6 linked regions of the Homo sapiens genome follow. The protein of the gene in region 2 purifies or fractionates together with the protein of the main gene of each other region. This does not show direct contact. Each region holds a gene or a part of one and is shown on either strand. Other genes may lie near its edges.

Region 1 (3,500 bases), on a different chromosome or scaffold from region 2:
AAAGTGTTTGATAAGTGTGTTGCATGGTGTATGGAGGTATCATGGAACTCCACATCTATGGCATTGTCTTGCTCATCATTATAGCAGCGAATAATTCCAATAGAGTTCCACACCTACAAACAGGTAAGATTAAATATAAGTCTGAGAAAAACTGAAGCTCCTAGAATCAGTAAGCCACAGTAGTACAAATTAACAAATATTATAATTAAATTTGTATTAAGATTTAGGTTTTGGGAGTTACTACATCTCATCTATCTCTAAATAGTTTCTGACAGGAGTCATAATACCAGAGCTACAATTACTTATTATTTCCTTGGTGAGAATAAGATACATATATACTTATTAATTAGCAAATAGAGTATTTAATAATATTTAAAAATAAATTACATGACTGTTACTTTAAAAGCACATTACAGTTGTCCTTTGAACAACCAAACCATTAAATTCCTCAAAAGAAATATTTCAAAAATTGAGTTTTCTTACAAATATGGATGCAAATAACAACAGACTTTTTTCCTAACTATTCTATGATAAAATAAATACATACATTTTAAGAAAACATAATTTTTTTTTTTTTTTGGAGACAGTTTTGCTCTGTCACCCAAGCTGGAGTGCAGTGGCATGATCTCGGCTCACCGCAACCTCTGCCTCCTGGATTCAAGTGATTCTCCTCCCTCAGCCTCCTGTGTAGCTGTGGTTACAGGTGCATGCCACCAGGTCCAGCTAATTTCTGTATTTTTTTAGTAGAGATAGGGTGTTTCACCATGTTGGCCAGGCTGGTCTCCAACTCCTATCCTCAAGTGACCAACCCACCTTGGCCTCCCAAAGTGCTGGGATTATAGGCGTGAGCCATCACGCCCGGCAGAGGCAACATAAATTGATACCACTTGGAAAACTTATCTTCCACTGATGTCCATTATAGGCTCACACTAGGCCCTAGAGTTTCTAATAAAATTAGTGCCAATATTTTATTTAACATAACTATAAATAAAATATTGACACTAATAAAAAAATTAAGACCTATGACTTGATGACTACTGATAGCAATAAAAAGTTTTATTAATATTAATCACCACCCTTAATCTTTACATAAAAATTTATGCCAGGCCTATACTCTTCAAATTTATGCCAGGCCTATACTTTTAAAAAGGCAAAATCCTCAGAATGGAAAACATCATATAACCAACACAGAAAAACTAAACTTTTTAAGAACTCAGGCCAGGCGCGGTGGCTCACGCCTGTAATCCCAGCACTTTGGGAGGCCTAGGCAGGCGGATCACGAGGTCAGGAGATCGAGACCATCCTGTCTAACATGGTGAAATCCCATCTCTACTAAAAATACAAAAATTAGCTGGGCATGGTGGCAGGCACCTGTAGTCCCAGCTACTCGGGAGGCTGAGGCAGGAGAATGGCGTGAACCTGGGAGGCGGAGCTTGCAGTGAGCAGAGATTGTGCCACTGCACTCCAGCCTGGGCAACAGAGCGAGACTCCATCTCAAAAAAAAAAAAAAAGAACTCAAATCTAAGGCAAAAAGCCAATATATTCATTTTGTCTATTCATGAAATATATATTTAATGTGCACTGTATCATACCTTGTTCCAAATCCTAAGAACATATCAGTAAACAAAACAAAAATCTTTATCCTCGTGTAGCTTACATTCTGGTGGGTGGTGGAGTGAGGAAAAGGGTCAGACTTTTCCCCCCATAGTACTTGCCACCTTCTAATATATTATACTAGTAGTTGCCTTCTAAGAAAGCACCTCCTTACTAGTGTTTTGGAGTCAGTATAATCTTCTATGTAACAATGACCATGAAGAATAAGGTTTGAAAGTATTGCCAAGAAATATTGCAAGATAGTAATATTTACTTATGTTCATTTAATGTCATTTTGGAAAGCAGAATTTTATTTAACATCATTTTCAATAAGGTTGAAACAAGATTAAAACTGTGAGCTAACCATAAAATAAACCAACCACAAAACTGTAATCAACCAAAGTGCTCCAGGCTACTTAATCAAAGTTTTTAAAAATATGTTTTATCCAAAAAAATTAACTATAGTAAGAAAAAAGTGCTGAAAACCTACTAAGAAGTTAAGTGTAGATCCAAGTCTTACCATGAATCTGTGAGTGAGATGCAACGGTGTAGAACCTGACTGAAATGGCTTTTGCCGGGGAGTTGGCATGGGTCCATCATAAAATGGCCTTTGGGATGTTACAAGTGGTAGATTGTGAATGCTGCCTTCTTGACCATCTTCCTCCTCCTCTTTGAGAAGACTAGAACCAGTTTTTAGCATTGAAATATCTACAACACAAAGGATCATAATTAAGGGAATCACGAATACCAATGATTTGGAAAAAGGAAAGCATTATGGAATCTAGTAACTTTTTCATTCATATTCAATGACACTGACATGCTATTTGCCTCTTTCACTGTGTTAAAGAGATGCAGTGATGGTGCAAAAGCAATGGTGGGTAAAATTCCTGGTGCCTTGGCACCAATCAAGGCAGTGGCACCTAACTGTATTAGTCGTTACTGCATTGTTAACCACTACTCACTTGCAGTAAAAATATTAATTTTATTAAATCTTGACGCTTACACAGATTTTTTTTTTAAAGTTCTGTGTGCTAAAATGAGAAGTGTGATGGTTGTCTTGAAAAAAAGCACTTATGCAATTGTTTGAGTTGTAAGCTGAACTAAGTGATTTTTTTTCATACAACACTACTTTTACTTAAAAAACACATGCCAGATAAACTACGGTTATGCAGAATTGGATCTTTGGCAAACATTTTCTTGTAAATGAATGAAGTGAGCCTATCAATTAAGAAAAAATAACTGGCAGAATTTGTTGCCAATGATAACATTTGAGCTTTCAGGCCAGGCACGGTGGCTCACACCTGTAATCCCAGCACTTTGCAAGGCCGAGGCAGGCAGATCACTTAAGGTCGGGAGTTCCACGTTGACCAGCCTGGCCAACATGGTGAAACCCTGTCTCTACTGAAAATACAAAAATTAGCCAGGCATGGTGGCACATGCCTGTAATCCCATCTACTCGGGAGGCTGAGACAGGAGAATCGCTTGAACCCGGGAGACTCCGTCTCAAAAAAAAAAGAGCTGGGCACAGTGGCTCAGGCCTGTAATCCCAGCACTTTGGGAGGCCAAGGTGGGTAGATCATTTGAGGTCAGGAGTCCGAGACCAGATTGACCTACATAGTGAAACCCCGTCTCTACTAAAATACAAAAATTAGCCTGGCATGGTGGCGGGCACCTATAATCCCAGCTACTCAGGAGGCTGAGGCAGGAGAATCACTTGTACCCAGAGGGCAGAGGTTGCAGTGAACCGAGATCGTGCCACTGCACTCTAGGCTGGGTGACAGAGCAAGACTCCCTCTCAAAAAATAAAAACAAGAAATTTGAGCTTTCAATTAAAAATTAAGATATTGGAAAGCTTCTATTTGCCATTATGAGCTTCACAACTTTCTAATACTTAGAAACTACTGATG
Region 2 (3,500 bases):
TTGGGAGGCCAAGGCGGGAGGATCACGAGATCAGGAGATCGAGACCATCCTGGCTAACACAGTGAAACCCTGTCCCTACTAAAATACAAAAAATTAGCCGGGCATGGTGGTGGGCGCCTGCAGTCCCAGCTACTCCAGAGGCTGAGGCAGGAGAATGGTGTGAACCCAGAAGGTGGAGCTTGCAGTGAGCCAAGATCACGCCACTGCACTCCAGCCTGGGCGACAGAGCAAGACTCCATCTCAAAAAACAAAACAAAACAAAACTATGAGATTCTATACAAGGTATGTAGGAAAAAATATTTTAAATGAGTTTAATTCAAGAAAACATGGGCCAAATGTTTTTATAGAAACTAATGAAATACCAGTTAAATATCAGCATAAGTGTGACTGCTTAACTGCTATTGTTAATGTGAATAAAAAGCTTTTTAAAAAAGTGAGAATTTGGGTTTGTTTTCCCCACAGAAATAAAAAGATAAAGCTAATCTTGAACCAAGAAATTAGCCTAGTAGCCTTCATGAGATCATCTCTTTAGCTGTATACTGAATCTGATAGGAAAATTTAACTGTGAAGAAATGGGATTACCAATTATGATATGGTGGCATCCTAATTTCCATTTTATGAGAAACAGCAACCAGATACACAGTATGTCATATCAACACTAAACAGCACAGAGACATCTGCTCATTAAAGAACAACTTTTGCTGGCCGGGTGCGGTGGCTCACGCCTGTAATCCCAACACTTTAAAAGACCGAGGCGGGCGGATCACGAGATCAGGAAATCGATACCATCCTGGCCAACATGGTGAAACCCCATCTCTACTAAAATACAAAAAATTAGCCAGGCGTGGTTGCCACATGCCTGTAATCCCAGCTACTCGAGAGGCTGAGGCAGGGAAATCGCTTGAACCCCGGAGGCGAGATTGCAGTGAGCTGGGATCGCGCCACTGCACTCCAGCCTGGCAACAGAGCAAGACTCTGTCTTGAAAAAGAAAAAAAACAAACAAAACTTTTGCCATATGTTTTCTCTTACGGCTATGTGTAAATCACCTACAAACTTTTCTAATACCGTCAATTTTACTCTCGCTTTCTGATTCATCCCAGAATAGTCCTGATCTCAAAAAAAAGCCAACAATGAATAATTGAAAGAATGTGGTAGGCCAGGCGCGGTGGCTCACGCCTGTAATCCCAGCACTTTGGGAGGCCGAGGCAGGCAGATCACGAGGTCAGGAGTTCGAGACCAGCCTGACCAACATGCTGAAACCCTGTCTCTACTAAAAATACAAAAATTAGCCAGGCATGGTGGTGCATGCCTGTAATCCCAGCTACTCGGGAGGCTGGGGCAGGAGAATCGCTTGAACCCAGGAGGCAGAGGTTGCAGTGAGCCGAGATCATGCCATTGCACTCCAGCGCTCCAGCCTGGGCAACAGAGCAAGACTCTGTCTCAAAATAAAAAAATAAAAAAAATAAGAATGTGGTAGTGGCATACAAATAGACCAAATGAAACAGAACATAAAGTCCAGAATAAGACCCAATTACTTATGGAAATTTAATATATAATGAAGGTGGCATCCCATATCACTAAGGAAAAGATGGACTTTATTAAGTAGTGTTGGCTAGCCATTTGTAAAGAAGTAAACCAGTATAAACACCAAATGGATCACAAATCAAAATTTTTAAAAATGAAACTTTACAAAAACCTTTTAAAAAGCAATTCCTTTGCAATTTGGGTCCAGTGAAAATCTTTCTATGACTCAGAATCCACTTGCAAGAAAAAAAATGATAAATTCAATTACACCAGAATTGGTGTAAAAAGAAAAACCAAGAAAAAAGAAAACCAAGTTAAAAGAAAAATGAAGAAAAAATTTGTGCAATATGTATCACAGATAAAGGACCAATTTCCCTGACAAAGAACTTTTAAAAACTTAAAAGATAAAAAGCCCAAAAGGAAAGCAGGCAGTAAACACAAACATATATAAATAGTTACGTTTTATGAAAAGATGATCAATTTCATATGTAAAAGAAATGCATATGAGGCTGGGCATGGTGGCTCACATCTGTAATCCCAACACTTTGGGAGGCCACGAGGCGGGCGGAATACGAGGTCAGGAGTTCGAGACCAGCCTGGCCAACATAGTGAAACCCCATCTCTACTAAAAATACAATAATTAGCCGGGCATGGTGGCACACACCTGTAGTCCCAGCTACTTGGGAGGCTGAGGCAGGAGAATCGCTTGAAACCAGGAGGCGGAAGTTGCAATGACCTGAGACCGCACCACTGCACTCCTGCCTGGGTGACAAAGTGAGACTCAGTCTCAAAAACAAACAAACAAAAAAAAATGCAAATGAAAACCACACTGAAATGCCACTTCTCACATATCAGAGTGGCAAAAATTCAAAAGCTTGAAAACACTGTTAGTAAGGCTGTAGAGAAACAGACATTCATACATTGTTCATGAGAGTGTAAAATGGGACAGCTCCTATAAAGAATAGGCAATAGCTAATAAAATTTTATGTGTAGTGGGCTGGGCGTGGTGGCTCACGCCTGTAATCCCAGCACTTTGGGAGGCCAAGGCGGGTGGATCATCTCAGGACAGGAGCTCGAGACCAGCCTGGCCAACATGGTGAAACCCCGTCTCTACTAAAAATACAAAAATTAGCTGGGTGTGGTGGCAGGCACCTGTAATCCCAGCTACTCAGGAGGCTGAGGCGGAAGAATCACTTGAACTCAGGAGGCAGAGGTTGCAATGAGCCGAGATCGCGCCATTGTACTCCAGCTTAGGCAACGAGCAAAACTCCATCTCAAAAAAAAAAAAATTTATGCGTAGCTACTCTTTGAGCCAGCAATCCCACTTCTGGGAATTTTCTCTGAGGAAAACGCCATATGCACAGAGTTATTGGATGTGGCATTATAATAGCAAATTACTCAAAATAATCTAAATGTCCTTCCAAGGAAACCATTTGAATAAACATTGTGCAATCCCTATCATGGAATACTATGCAGCTACATAGAAATAAATAATTAAAAACAAGCTCTCTATGTTCTAATATGGGGTAATTTTCAAGACATCTTGCTACAAGAAAAAAGCAAAGTACAAAACCTCTATAACATTATCTTTTGTTTAAGAAAGAAAAGGGGCCGGGCACCGTGGCTCATGCCTGTAATCCCAACACTTTCCCAGGGCAAAACGGGCGGACTGCTTGAGCCCAGGAGTTTGAGACCAGCCTGGGCAACATGGCGAAACTCTGTCTCTACTAAAAACACAAAAAATTAGCCGAGCGTGGCAGGATGTGCCTGTAGTCCTGGCTACTCGGGACACTGAGGTGGGAGGATAGCTTGAGCCCAGGAGGCGGAGGTTGCAGTGAGCCCAAATCGCACCACTGCACTCCATCCTGGACGACAGAGCAAGAATCTGTCTCAGAAAAAAGAAAGAAAAGGAAATAAAAATACATATACATGCCAGCGCGGTGGCTCACACCTGTAATCCCAGCACTTTGGGAGA
Region 3 (3,155 bases), on a different chromosome or scaffold from region 2:
CTAAATGAAGAAAATTTGAGTAACAACGGTGATAGTAAAAACCGAAAGTTTTAGCTTTTTAAAAATCCTAGATTTATTCATAATTAGCAACTTAAGTGTCAAGTTGACCTTGAACTTGGTAGAATCATTCTGACTCTGCTAGTAGTTTTTAGAGTTAAAAGGCTCCTATCTAGGAGACTCTTCGTGGCTTTCATTTCTTATTCATCAATCTTCCGGATCTCTTTCCAATGTTACTTCAAAGACGACTAGTGCATTAGTTACTTCCCTTACAAACTTTGTAGGTGCTAGCCTGAAGTAAAAATTCTGTAGTTTGGAGCTACAGCTTGTTCTTCATGTTTCTTCTAAGATTGTCTCTGTAGAATTAAATGTCAAAATCTGAAAGGCGAGCTCAGGGCAGTTGATTGAAGGAGTATGATATGTAAAACACACTTTATGTACATGTGTGCCAAGATGTGTGCAAGGGGTGCAACAAAATGACTTGTGAGTGTCTCCCTCCTTGATCTGTTTTGACCAAACTTTATTACTCATTTAATGGAACTGTAACAAAGAGCAGGAATCAAAACACATGGGGATCACAGAGGCTGTTATGTTTATTGTGCAGAACAGACAGTGATAATACACTAGAGAAATATTTTCAACAAGCAAGCGATTCAAAGTACAATCATAGACAGCAATTCTACATAAAGAACAAAGAATAAAGTTAGAAGACACTCAAAGGAACAGGGAGAAAGTCAACTGCAGTTAAACGTCTTGATACTTTTCTCCTGCAAACATACCTAACTTGCAGAAATGGTAGAAAAGTTAAATGTCCAGTCTTATGTAGCTGCGACCAACAACAGCAAAGAACAGTCCTATAAAATTTATCTCCCACAAAAATAAACTATATATATAAAAATTTTATGATGTTCTTACTGTTCCATTGGCCACAAGCTTTTTTTTTCAGTATGAAAAATGAGGTATACTGGGACTTAAGAGGTAGTAGTGTGTTTTGATTGTACAACATACAGGAAATAAAAGTGTAACTTTACCAGAGATGGAAATCACTCGGTGCACCATGTTTGGCCAACATGAGCAATTGCTTCCATTTTATGAGCTGGCCAATGAGGTTTCTAAAAGGCCCATCCAAAGATATGGAATGCGACTTTTATTTTTATGAGCCACTGTTTATTTGCTTATTTAACGCACAGTTAACAGTAATGTTGAGTTTTAATTCTCTCCATAGCTCCTTTGGTGATTCACAACAGTGAGCGATCTGCCAGTCTCAGAGAGGTATGTGGCCTTTGAAACTACCTCCCTGAAGCAGCTGGAAGAGAGATGGTTTTGAGTTTCATTTGGCTTCAGTACTAAAAGCCATACTGACAAAAGCCGTCATGAGAAACTACCTCCTGGCCCAGTTGATAATACCATGTTAAAAAGTCAGCACACTCACTAGGAGAGAAAGGCATAAAAACTCTACATAAGAAGCGTTTAAAATAAATCTGGTTGAGACATATTACAAAAATCACATTTGTGTAAAATACATGAAAATATTTGTCAAGCATTTTCTTATATTCAACTAATCTTAAAAACACATATTTTTGATTGCATTATGCAAAAGCAGGGCTTGTTGCATCTCACCTACAAAGCTTCAAGTTTCTTTGAAGGTTGGCTTTTATTTTATTTATTATTTACTTATTTTGCAAAAGTATGTAAAAACGTGTTCCTTTCTATCAAATGTCTTTTACAAAAATAGTTTTGACTAGGGTTAGCTGCAGTTTGAACTATTTCAAACATTGAAAAAACAAATGAATGCTGCAAGTAACAAGTTCATTCCTTTTGAAGTCTGGAGGTAGGTCTTTGCAAGTCAATTAGTCCATCTCCTTAAAGAATTCATTTGAGGTACAGACTTGGAGGGTAATATTTAAATATTACAGTCAAATCTTGTGTGATGTGTAGTGTGATTGAGGAAAATTATCCTTAAGAACCTAGGAGCGACTTGGTTAAAAAATTTTCAAGTTAATGTAGAAATCTAGCAGAGAAGCTGAAACAAGTATTTTAAAAATTTTTAATTAAAAAAACATAGAAAAATACATAGTCATGCTGAAACACAGTAAGGAGATTGCTTCTTTAACTGTAATTAAGTGTACAAAAAGAACTGCAGATGATTAGAATCACCTACCCAGTAAGTTTTTTTCTTGCATTGCTTGTGTATAGCAGCATGTAATAAGTACTAGACTGTAAATTCGTTGTAACATTCAGAGGTAGTATTGAGTAGTGGGGATATATTGCATCTCTGGCTAAAAGTGCAGTTTGAATGAAGAGATGGTGAACTCAAGCCGAAGAAAAGCACCTTGGTCAACCATCTTATGTCAAAACGTATTACTTGAAGTAACACATATGCTTAATTTGAGGTAAGTGGTATTCAGGTCTTTCATGGAAACTGATACACAATGAAAAGAGAGAGGGAGAGGAAGAGAGAGAGAGAAAGACACAGAGAGAGATTGCCCCCCCCTTTTTTTTTTTTGCTTTTTAAATTGATGTATAACTATAGCAAAAGAAATTTAGATTTCGCTCCTCCCACCTCATAATTAGGTGAGTTCATCATGCATTATTCTGTTGTACCTTTTCATTAAATTACAAAGAGGATAATTTTACTTGTCTAGTTTCCTTAAATGCTCTGAGGCTGACAAGTGTTATTTATTGCTAAATGGCATTTTGGCTCTGTAGGAAGTAGATTTCCTGAAAATGAAGTGTTGTCCTGAAAACAAGTGCTGTGAGTAAATTTATTACTCCTGCTGATATGTGTGATATCCATAAATAGAAGAGTTGGCAATATTTGTTTGCTTACTTCCCTTTTTGAAAAATGAACATAACCTTTTCTAGTTTGTTAGCTGAATGAAAGGATACATCAGCATTTCGTCTCATTTAGAAATAAAAAGTTAAAAATCATCAAGTAAGTGTCTACAAGATTATACGAAAAAGAGAAAGTAGTATCTAGTCCTTATCTTTGGTGTTCTAAACAGAGGATTCACTACAGGGAGTGGGTTGGGGTGGTATTTGAGGTGTACACAGTGTTACACACCGCGTTCTTCCTATATGAATGCCCGACGTCACAAGTGTGACACGTTTCTTGTTTGCATGCAGTGCAGTGATTGACTAAACCCAATTCGGTTTTT
Region 4 (3,500 bases), on a different chromosome or scaffold from region 2:
GGCATGCGCCTATAATCTCAGCTACTCGGAAGGCTGAGGCATGAGAATCACTTGAACCCGGGAGGCGGAGGTTGCAGTGAGCCGAGATCGCGCCACTGCACTCCAGCCTAGGTGACAGAGTGAGACTCTGTCTCCAAAAAAAAAAGAAAAAAAAAAAAAAGGGTGTGTAATTCGGTGATTTTTAGTATATTCACAAGTTGTGTAGCCATTACTACTATCTAATTTCAGAACATTTTCATCACCCCAAAAAGATTTCTATTAGCCCATTAACAGTCTAAGAGTTATTTTGCCAAAAATATGCTCTTCTAATTAATGGTATCCCAAATTATATCATGTTAACATATTTTACCCAAAGCAGAAAGTTTTACTGGAGAATGAGAAGAAGGACAGTAACAAAGTATACTGACTTACCTTCTGCTAAGACAAAGCATGCCTCTGTGTATAAACCACTATGGAACTGGTACACAACAGTTGAGGAAAATAATTCTATTCTTGAGGCAGTAATAAAGTCAACATACATTTTGAGTCCAACAAGGCTTCTAAATAATAAATTTAAAGACTTCCCATTTGAAACTGTGAATAGACCACAGCTTAGAAAGAGCTTAAAAAATTTTAGTTTTAAATGTCCTCATGTTTAATTCTTGGTAATATTGACAGGGTGGATCATTCTTACCATGATATAAATTTCGTCAGTGATTCATCTAGATTCTCCAAATAAGAGAAAATTAAAGTTGTTCTGTCCCTGTTTAGGATTATATCTCTACATTCCTACACCAGCAACATAGAGAAGTTACATTGAGAACCCAAATAGGTAAATTTTAGAAGGATATATAATCAATTTCCCCAATTCACGTAATGCAGATTTTAAAAAATACAGACAAGTGAAGGATATAGCTTTACTAAGGTCTAGTTGGACTGTTCCAGTAGGATCTTCCAGAAAAAATTTTCCCTAAAAAAATGAAAATAAATAAATCCACATTTATGTAACAATGAAAACCGTTGACAAAAAAATTAAACTACAAGTTTGACAACAGAATACAATAGGGAGAAAGTGGATTTTAAAAATCAGCTATTATTTCTAGTCCAGGCTCTTCCATTTACTAGTCTGATAACCCCAGACTAATCACTTAACTGAGATTCTGACTCCTCACAGGTACAATGGAGAATGACTCCTACAGATAAGAAATGGCAAGAGGGACATTTGATGTCTGCCATAAGGAGGGTCTCCCCAGGTACCTTCTAAGACAGCCAACAGCATGTCCAAGGGACCAGGACATACTCTGCAGCTTGCTTGTTCAGAAACCCAGTACTCTCCGTTTATCCAGAGGTCACTACAGGCCTAATTTCAGGCTATGCAAACTGGGCTCCTGCACAAGACACTCTGTCCTGATGTCTTCTCAGGAAACCAAACACAGATGAAAAAGACACTTGGTGACTGAGAAAAGGTTTTTGTTTTTTCTGGGTTTTTTTTTTTTTTTTTTACTATTACAAAAGTTTATTTAACAAAAAGTCTAATATGAAAATGTACATGACCTAATTTTTACGTCATTGTAAAACAGGCCCTATGGAGAGAGAAAATGGGTTTCTCTGCTGAACAGCCATTATTATTTTATTTATTTATTTATTTTTGAGACAAAGTTTCGCTCTTGTTGCCCAGGCTACAGTGCAATGGCACCATCTCAGCTCACTACAACCTCCACCTCCCGAGTTCAAGGAATTCTTCTGCCTCAGCCTCCTGAGTAGCTGGGATTACAGGCATGTGCCACCACGCCTGGCTAATTTTGTATTTTTAGTAGAGACAGGGTTTCTCCATGTTGGTCAGGCTGGTCTTGAACTCCCGGCCTCAGGTGATCCGCCCACCTCAGCCTCCCAAAGTGGCTAGGATTACAGGCGTGAGCCACCGCGCCCAGCCAACAGCCATTATTTATCCTTGTTCCAAGGCTTCTGACATGATGATACTATTTCCTCGTATTACCACTATTCCAATATTGTTCTGTTGGTGAGGCGAGTTTTCAATAAAGAATACATTCCTGTGCCCACTACAAAAATGTTCTATGTAACCGACATTTCATCAATCCAAGGCCAAAAATAAAAGTTTGATGCTTATTAAGTTACCTCTTTTAACTGCGTTATCATTCCAAGAACAATCGCATCTCCGATTTTGGTTGTACTACCCAATAAGGTTTCTATTGTTTTAAGCTAAAATAAAACAAAATAAATTTTAAAGACTGTAAATATATTCTTTCAAGAAACAAAACTTTTTATAAATAACTATATTTGGGGTATACATTTCAGCATTTATAGCTACTTTACAGTAGAAAATCAAATAAAATGGAAATAAAGTTGTAAAATTAAACTTAGGATGTTTAATTTTGTCCTACAAAAAAGCTGTAAGATCAAGTGTATGATGCCTAAAGAAACACCACATCGACTCAGGCTCTTACCAATGACTGAATCCTCACACCATATCATTCTGAATAATGATAAGTACATTTATTTTTTAAATATAGAAAAGAATATCAATTTTATTTTCTTTGAACAGTACCTTTTGAAAACTAGCAAGCTATTTAAAAATATATATTCCAATTTTACTTAGTATTTTAAAAGGCTCTCATTATTATTTACATTCTCAATCTGATCTTTTTTTCTAATCAGAAAGTTTAAGGTAGTAAAAATTGGGACACTATTGTAAAAAATCCTTTCCGGCCAGGTGCAGTGGCTCACGCCTGTAATCCCAGCACTTTGGGAGGCCGAGGCAGGCGGATCACGAGGTCAGAAGATCAAGACCATGGTGAAATCCTGTCTCTACTAAAAATACAAAAAATTAGCCAGGCATGGTGGCAGGCGCCTGTAGTCCCAGCTACTCGGGAGGCTGAGGCAGGAGAATGGTGTGAACCCGGGAGGCGGAGCTTGCAGTAAGCCGAGATCGCCTTGCATTCCAGCCTGGGTGACAGAGCAAGACTCTGTCTCAAAAAAAAAACAAAAAAAACAAAAAACTTTCCATCTTTTTCTATATGTAATCCTAAATATATGTAAATACATACATATATAATTTATAACACACACCTATACAGTTTATTTACAAAGATGAAATCATAGTATATGTACTATTCTGCAACTTAACTAATTGAAGTTAATATTATCTGAGACATCTTTCCATTTTTCTACATATAGATTTCCTTCTGTTTAAAGAATAGAGATATCTATATTATACATATGACCATTTATTTCACCAAACTCCTATTAAAGGACATTTAAGTTGTTCCCAGTTTTCTACTAATAAAAACAATGTTTAATATTTCTGTGCAACTTTCTTGGCCCACTACACAGATAGAAACTTTTTTTTTTTTTTTTGAGATGGGGTTTCACATTGCCCAGGCTGGAGTGCAGTGGCACTCTCATACCTCACTGCAGCCTTAAACTGGGCTCAAGTGATCCTTCCACCTCAGCCCCCTGAGTCACCAAGATTACAGGCACTAGCCACTGCATCCAGCTACAGA
Region 5 (3,500 bases), on a different chromosome or scaffold from region 2:
CAGGGGGCGCTGGGGTGTAGAAGTGATTCTCCTGCCTCAGCCTCCCAAGTAGCTGGGATTATAGGCACCCGCTTCCATGCCCGACTAATTTTGTATTTTTAGTAGACAGGGTTTCTCCATGTTGGCCAGGCTGGTCTCGAACTCCCAATCTCAGGTGATCTGCCCACTTCGGCCTCCCAAAGTGCTGGGATTACAGGCGTGAGCCACCGCGCCTGGCCTATTTTTGTTTTTGTTTTTGTTTTTTTTAGCAGAGACTAGGTTTCATCATGTTGGCCAGGCTGGTCTCCATCCTCACCTCAGGTGATCTGCCCACCTCAGCCTCTCAAAGTGCTGGGATTACAGGTGTGAGCCAGTGCACCTAGCCCACATGTCCTCTTTGTGTAGTGACACCGTCGTGAGGTGAGGGCCCACCCCAGTGACCTCATCTTCACTTGACCCCCTGCGAAGACATATTTCCAAATGAGGTTACATTCTGAGGTGCCGGGGGTTAGGGCTTCAACATCTTTTGGGAGAACATGGTTCAGCCCTTAATGAGATATATTGCCTTATTTTCCTGCTTTTCTCTATGTCTGGCCAGCTTGGTAATGGAAAAACAAAACAGGCTGGGTGTGGTGGCTCACGCCTCTAATCCCAGCACTTTGGGAGGATGAGGCGAGAGGATCGATGGAGCCCAGGAGTTCAAGACCAGCCAGGGCAACATAGCAAGACCCTGCCTCTATTAAAGAGAAAACAAGAAAAAATCCATTCTAAAATACAGAACAAACTCTTAGGACCCCCAGTGTATATTCCACAGCGTGGCGCTGATGCCCGGGCCATGGTACTCCTCCTCCCCTTCCCTGGGTGTCCCTCACCCTCTGCCCTGTCCCCAGCTCAGGCTTCTTCTGGCCTCAGTCTCCCCCAGGCTGGGCCCCAGCACCCTGCAAGGCCTCCTGCAGCCAGGCGCCCTCCAGCGCCCTCAGCATCCATCTCAGCCCAGCTCCACGCCGCCTCCTGCCTCTGCCCCCACCTGGCCGCCTGCTCACAGTGTCCCCAAATCTCTTCCTGTTTCCTGCCTAGGTACAGCCCGCAGACACTGGGCTCCATCCTTGGCCCCCAGTCCATCAGGGCCCCTGACTCTCGCTATCCCAGCCTTGGCTGCAGCTTAGTCCTTACTCCGGACTCCCTCCCCAGTCTCCAGCCACCCACACCCAGCCCCAGACCGTCTTTCTGCCCCCAGGGTTGCTCTCGACCCCCTAGGGTTGTTATAAGGATGTTGTGGTTGGTCTCAATCTCCGTTCTTCAGGCTTATGTGACGGGGACCCGCAGCCTGCTGCACACCCTGCCTCTCCTCCTCAGGTACAAACATTCCCTTTCCTGGGCCGTGTGGCCGGCCTTTGCTCCAACATCCGGGACTCTTCATTCCAGTCCAAGCAGACGGGCCGGCGGGACACCAAGGTTGTCAGCATGGTGGGCCGCGTGCAGATGGACATGCTGCAGGTATGGGCGGGAGGTGGGGTGTGTCCCTGTCCTTGGAAGGCCACTGCCCAGGCCCGCAGCCCACCAGCCCACCCACCCACCTAGGTGCTGCTGCGGGAGTACAAGCTCCGCTCCTACACGCTCAATGCCGTGAGCTTCCACTTCCTGGGCGAGCAGAAGGAGGACGTGCAGCACAGCATCATCACCGACCTGCAGGTGCCTGCTGCCTCCCTGACCTCTCACCCCAACCTCTGACCTCCACCTCACCCTTCCCCGGCCTCTGACCTCAACTTCACGCCCCCACGTCTGACCTCACTCTTTGACCTGCTGTTATGACCTGTGACCTTACCTGACGCCCACTTTTTCCTGACCTCTGACCCCAGATTTCTCTCCACTCCTGTGACCTCTGTCACTATGACCTTGTCTCTGCTTTCCTGGCCTGACCACAGGTCCACGGTGGCCTTCAGGCTGCTCCCTCCTCCTCCCTCTGGCCCTGTGGACTCCCTGGCCCCCAACCCTACCTCCATCCCCACCCAGACCCTGACGACTTGGAGGGCCCTCCTGCCCGCCTCACCTCCCAGGCCCTCCCCAGGCTACCTCACCCTGACCCCCACTTCCTTCTCCTGCTCCACCTCCCACCCCCAACCCCTGGTCCCTGACCCCATCCGTGCCCATCCCCAGAATGGGAACGACCAGACCCGCCGCCGCCTGGCTGTGTACTGCCTGAAGGATGCCTACCTGCCACTGCGGCTGCTGGAGCGGCTCATGGTGCTGGTGAACGCCGTGGAGATGGCGAGGGTCACTGGCGTGCCCCTCAGCTACCTGCTCAGTCGTGGCCAGCAGGTCAAGGTCGTATCCCAGCTGTTGCGGCAGGTCAGTAGCCGAGACTTGTCCTCGCCACCCCCCACCAGGCACGTCTGTGGCCCCCTCCAGGCAATGGCATCCTGGATGCACTTTTTCTCCCCACTCCCAATCCGCACGGCCCCACCTATACCCACTCCATTTCCCACCTTCTCCCCTCCCAGGCCATGCACGAGGGGCTGCTGATGCCCGTGGTGAAGTCAGAGGGCGGCGAGGACTACACGGGAGCCACTGTCATCGAGCCCCTCAAAGGGTGAGGCCCCAGGCTGGGTGCAGTTTTTACCTGTAATCTCTGGGAGGCTGAGGTGGGAGGATCACTTGAGCTCAGGAGTTTGAGACCAGCCAGGGCAACATAGCGAGGCCCCTGCTCCACAAAATTTTTTTATTTTTATTTATTTTTATTTTTATTTTTTTGAGACAGAGTCTCGCTCTGTCACCCAGGCTGGAGTGCAGTGGCGCAATCTCAGCTCACTGCAAGCTTTGCCTCCCGGGTTCACGCCATTCTCCTACCTCAGTCTCCACAGCAGCTGGGACTACAGGCGCCCACCACCACGCCTGGCTAATTTTTTTTTTTTTTTTTTTTTTTGCATTTTTAGTAGGGACGGGGTTTCACCGTGTTAGCCAGGATGGTCTCGATCTGACCTCGTGATCCACCTGCCTCGGCCTCCCAAAGTGCTGGGATTATAGGCGTGAGCCACCGTGCCCGGCCGAAAAAATTTTTAAAAATTAGCCAGGCGTGGTGGTGCATGCCTGTAATCCCAGCTACTTGGGAGGCTGAGCTGGGAGGATGATGAGCCCAGGAGGTGGAGGCTGCAGTGAGCGATGATTGCGCCACTGCCCTCCAGCCTGGGCGACAGAGCAACACCCCGGCCCTAAAATAAATTAATAGGCCAGGCACGGTGGCTCACCCCTGTAATCAATCCCAGCACTTTGGGAGGTCAAGGCAGGCGGATCACAAGTTCAGGAGATTGGGACCATCCTGGCTAACACGGTGAAACCCCGTCTCTACTAAAAATACAGAAATTAGCTGGGCATGGTGGCGGGCGCCTGCAGTGCCAGCTACTCGGGAGGCTGAGGCAGAAGAATCGCTTGAACCCGGGAGGTGGAGGTTGCAGTGAGCTGAGATTGCGCCACTGCACTCCAGCCTGGGTGACAAAGCGAGACTCCGTCTCAAAAAAAATAAA
Region 6 (3,421 bases), on a different chromosome or scaffold from region 2:
CACTTAGATAAAAGACAACGTTTCCTTTCAAAGGAAATGTACACACTGTAGGGAGTGTTTATAAGCTGCAACTGGCACTAAAGACACAAGGACATGTCTACCTCCTCGGGAAAGGCAGTCTGTAAAGGGCTTTTTCCAAAATCAAATTAAGTCATTGTTTAAGTTTAAAGACACTGACAACACCATGTGTTGGCAAATATGTAGAACAACTGGAATTTTCTACACTTCTGGATTGAGTGTGAATTGATGTAACCTCTTTGGAAAACTATTTAGCAATACCTAGCCTATAATTAACAATTCTACTCCGAGGTATATACCCAAGGAAAAAATCATGCTAATATATACCAAACGCACATGGAATAATGTTCACAGAAGTGTTGTTCATAAAAACCAAAAATAAGAATAGCCCCCAAATCCAATATATAAATATAAATTAATTGTTGTATAATCATATAAATATTATATGGCCATGAAAATGAATTATTGCTACATGCAATAACATGGACCGATCTCCTCAAAATGTTGAGTGAAGGAAACTAGATGCAAAAGGTGCAAACGCATGATTACACTTATGTGGAGTTCAAAAACAGGAAAAACTAATCTATGATTTTAAAATTCACAATATAGGGCCGGGCGCCACGGCTCACGCCTGTAATCCCAGCACTTTGGGAGGCCAAGGCAGGTGAATCATGAGGTCAGGAGTTCGAGACCAGCCTTGCCAACACAGTGAAACACCATCTCTACTAAAAATACAAAAATTAGCCAGATGCGGTGGTGTGCGCCTGTAATCCCAGCTACTCAGGAGGCTGAGGCAGGAGAATCACTTGAACGCAGGAGGCGGAGGTTGCAGTGAGCCGAGATCGTGCCACTGCACTCCAGCCTGGGTGACAATGCAAGACTCAGTCTCCAAAAAAAAAAAAGAAAAGAAAAGAAAAAAAATTCAAGGTATGGTTTTGTTGGGGGGAGATGAATAGTGACAAGAATAGACACAGAGAAGACTTCTGGGATATTAGTAATGTTTTTTATTTCTTGATCTGGGTAGTGACTACACTGGTATGCTTATTACTTTGTGAAAATTCATCAAACTATATGTTTATGATTTGAGTACTTCTCTGTATTTATATTTCAATAAAACACTTATTAAAACAAAACAAACGAAACTTTAAGGTTTTCACTCACCAGCCGGATCAGCTCTTCTTTTATGAGCCTGGTGATTTCTGCCTTTGCTTTCTGCACAGCCAGTTCATTGGCACCTAGTGATTGAGTGGAAAGCATATTATTCAAATTACTAAACTTACACTGTGTTTACCCATATCACGGAGGTCCAGGAAGAAACACTGTAGGTGACTTTCAGAAACACTGTACTGCCTGCCAAGATAGCCATTTAATGCCTGGTGGAACATTACCCACATTATATAATGGCTGCTTATTATTTTGATTACTTTCAGAGTTTCAAATGTAACCACTGAGGTCATATTATGTGTTAAGAGTTCCTAGTATGGTGATTAAAAAGAGTGGAATAAAAAGACTATTAGTGATTTGTCCAGGAGATAGTAAGAGAAGGCTAAAGGGAAATATAACTTCCTTGGTTTATTCATTTAGTAAGTATTTATTAGACATTTATGATGTTCACTGAAGTCTACAAATGTTTCAGAAGGGTCTCGTCTGAACAAAATCTTTAAAATGAAAGGAGGACTAGCCAATTGGAGGGAGGAAAGATACCATAAGAGTATTTTGCAAAGGAAATTAATTACATGCGTAATGGTACAGAGTTAAGACAAGCATGCTTAATTATTGAAGAATAAGAGAAGCGTAGCGTGGTTGGAAAAGGAGTATGAAAGAACACCGCAAGATAGCTGACTAGATGAGGTAGGCTGCAGACATTCATTCACAGTTATCAATTTCATAAACATTAAGCACTCACCTCTCACATACTGTGAGACATTTAACATATAAATAACAAATTCATGCTCTTTAAAAGCTTACAGACTAGAAAAACAAACTTGTAAAGATATCAAAACAGGATGAAAAGGAAGTAGTTCACAAACTTCACTTTTAAATACCACTTTTAGGAAGTTTTCCTGACTCTGAAAGGCACAGTTAAGTGTTTTTTTCCTTAGTGCTCTCACAATATTGTATTTATACCATCACAAGAGCACACTTTTGAGGTAGAATGGACAAGATATTTTTTCTGATGGGATATGAACAGTGAAAAAGAGAAACAAATTAAGATATTAAGAGCTGGCTGGCAAGTGAAAAAAGGCAGAAGTAAAAGAATATACTGATTCCAGGAGGTAAACAGGTGTTTTCTGGACAGTGATAATGGGTGAAATTTAATTCTAAAATTGCTGTAGTTGAGGTGCTCATCAGACATCCAATTGGAAATACAGATGAGGCCAATGGAAATATGAACCAGAAGTTTAGAAGTGGCAGAGATTAGAGAGCCATCAAGGGTAGGCTGGGTAGAATCTGGAGCCAATGGACAATGCCAGTGAGTAGGTAAGTACAGATAGACACCATATTGCACACTGAGAAGAGAAAAAGAGCTGAATCAAAGAAGACTAAAGATTGAAATGTCTAAGAATAAAAGGAGGACTGGGTTTGCAACGTAGAGAGCTATATTTTTATCATTCCGTGTATTTTTAAAAAACACAAATGAGGGAAAGATTTATAATAAACGAGAAAATTTCCCCCCATATTAGAAATGAGTAACTTTTCTGTCCCCAGAGAGAGACAGAGACGGAGCTAGAAAGAGAGACAGAAACAGTTGCACAACAGGAAGGAAAAGGCCAAGGGTATGGCTATGAAGTCATAGCAACATATCTAATTTAAATCCTATACCTCCACTAGCCACCAATCACAACACTATAAAACTACGTGGGGAAGGTGAGTGCTGGAAGGGAAGAGAAAAAGAAGAATCAAGACCGAAGTCAAACTGAAAATTACAACAAAAATGAAATTTAGGAGGAAAACACGTTGCTTGGTATGAGTTGGTGTGAAGCTTGTTGATATTTTTGTGCAACTTTAAAAAGAAGGAAAATGACACTCTCACCTAGATTTAACTGGAAAATCAATTTTCCTACTTTTATCAGAGCCCGACAATTTGGACCAGTTTAAATTCTGACTTATGTAACTTCTTGTAATAGGTTACATATGTTTATAAGCAGCTATGAAAAAAAGGGCATTTCCTTTCATTGGTCCTAAAACAACTGTGGCTGCTTTTAAGGGATTCTCCACTAGTAAAAAGAGAGGGTCACAGAACAGGCTATATAAATTATACAGGCTGACTAGGCATGTAAGTCCTTCCTGTTCTCCTTCCCTTTGCCTGGTGGGAGGCCTGGAGCTGCTGAGCCAAACAGAGCCTCCAAGGAGCCAGCCAGGCAGTGGGGTCCCTCCAATTACAGAACTAGAAACAGATGAC

What was found.
Region 1: the proteins of POLA1 (region 2) and WDHD1 fractionate together in Homo sapiens (co-fractionation; one large-scale study listed by BioGRID). This does not show direct contact.
Region 3: the proteins of POLA1 (region 2) and HMGA2 fractionate together in Homo sapiens (co-fractionation; one large-scale study listed by BioGRID). This does not show direct contact.
Region 4: the proteins of POLA1 (region 2) and POLE2 fractionate together in Homo sapiens (co-fractionation; one large-scale study listed by BioGRID). This does not show direct contact.
Region 5: the proteins of POLA1 (region 2) and POLD1 fractionate together in Homo sapiens (co-fractionation; one large-scale study listed by BioGRID). This does not show direct contact.
Region 6: the proteins of POLA1 (region 2) and DDX46 fractionate together in Homo sapiens (co-fractionation; one large-scale study listed by BioGRID). This does not show direct contact.

The regions. Positions count from the first base shown.
Region 1 is NC_000014.9:54,989,100-54,992,599, forward strand, and holds part of WDHD1 (WD repeat and HMG-box DNA-binding protein 1), read right to left. Parts: intron 2,302-3,500; coding exon 2,114-2,301; intron 114-2,113; coding exon 1-113. UniProt on the Homo sapiens protein: Core replisome component that acts as a replication initiation factor. Binds directly to the CMG complex and functions as a hub to recruit additional proteins to the replication fork.
Region 2 is NC_000023.11:24,710,918-24,714,417, reverse strand, and holds part of POLA1 (DNA polymerase alpha catalytic subunit), read right to left. Parts: intron 1-3,500. UniProt on the Homo sapiens protein: Catalytic subunit of the DNA polymerase alpha complex (also known as the alpha DNA polymerase-primase complex) which plays an essential role in the initiation of DNA synthesis.
Region 3 is NC_000012.12:65,963,637-65,966,791, reverse strand, and holds the end of HMGA2 (high mobility group protein HMGI-C), read right to left. Parts: 3' UTR 501-3,155; downstream 1-500.
Region 4 is NC_000014.9:49,664,215-49,667,714, forward strand, and holds part of POLE2 (DNA polymerase epsilon subunit 2), read right to left. Parts: intron 2,200-3,500; coding exon 2,116-2,199; intron 950-2,115; coding exon 893-949; intron 461-892; coding exon 412-460; intron 1-411. UniProt on the Homo sapiens protein: Accessory component of the DNA polymerase epsilon complex. Participates in DNA repair and in chromosomal DNA replication.
Region 5 is NC_000019.10:50,404,847-50,408,346, forward strand, and holds part of POLD1 (DNA polymerase delta catalytic subunit), read left to right. Parts: intron 1-1,335; coding exon 1,336-1,476; intron 1,477-1,560; coding exon 1,561-1,671; intron 1,672-2,136; coding exon 2,137-2,328; intron 2,329-2,480; coding exon 2,481-2,569; intron 2,570-3,500. UniProt on the Homo sapiens protein: As the catalytic component of the trimeric (Pol-delta3 complex) and tetrameric DNA polymerase delta complexes (Pol-delta4 complex), plays a crucial role in high fidelity genome replication, including in lagging strand synthesis, and repair.
Region 6 is NC_000005.10:134,824,779-134,828,199, reverse strand, and holds part of DDX46 (probable ATP-dependent RNA helicase DDX46), read right to left. Parts: intron 1,254-3,421; coding exon 1,180-1,253; intron 1-1,179. UniProt on the Homo sapiens protein: Component of the 17S U2 SnRNP complex of the spliceosome, a large ribonucleoprotein complex that removes introns from transcribed pre-mRNAs.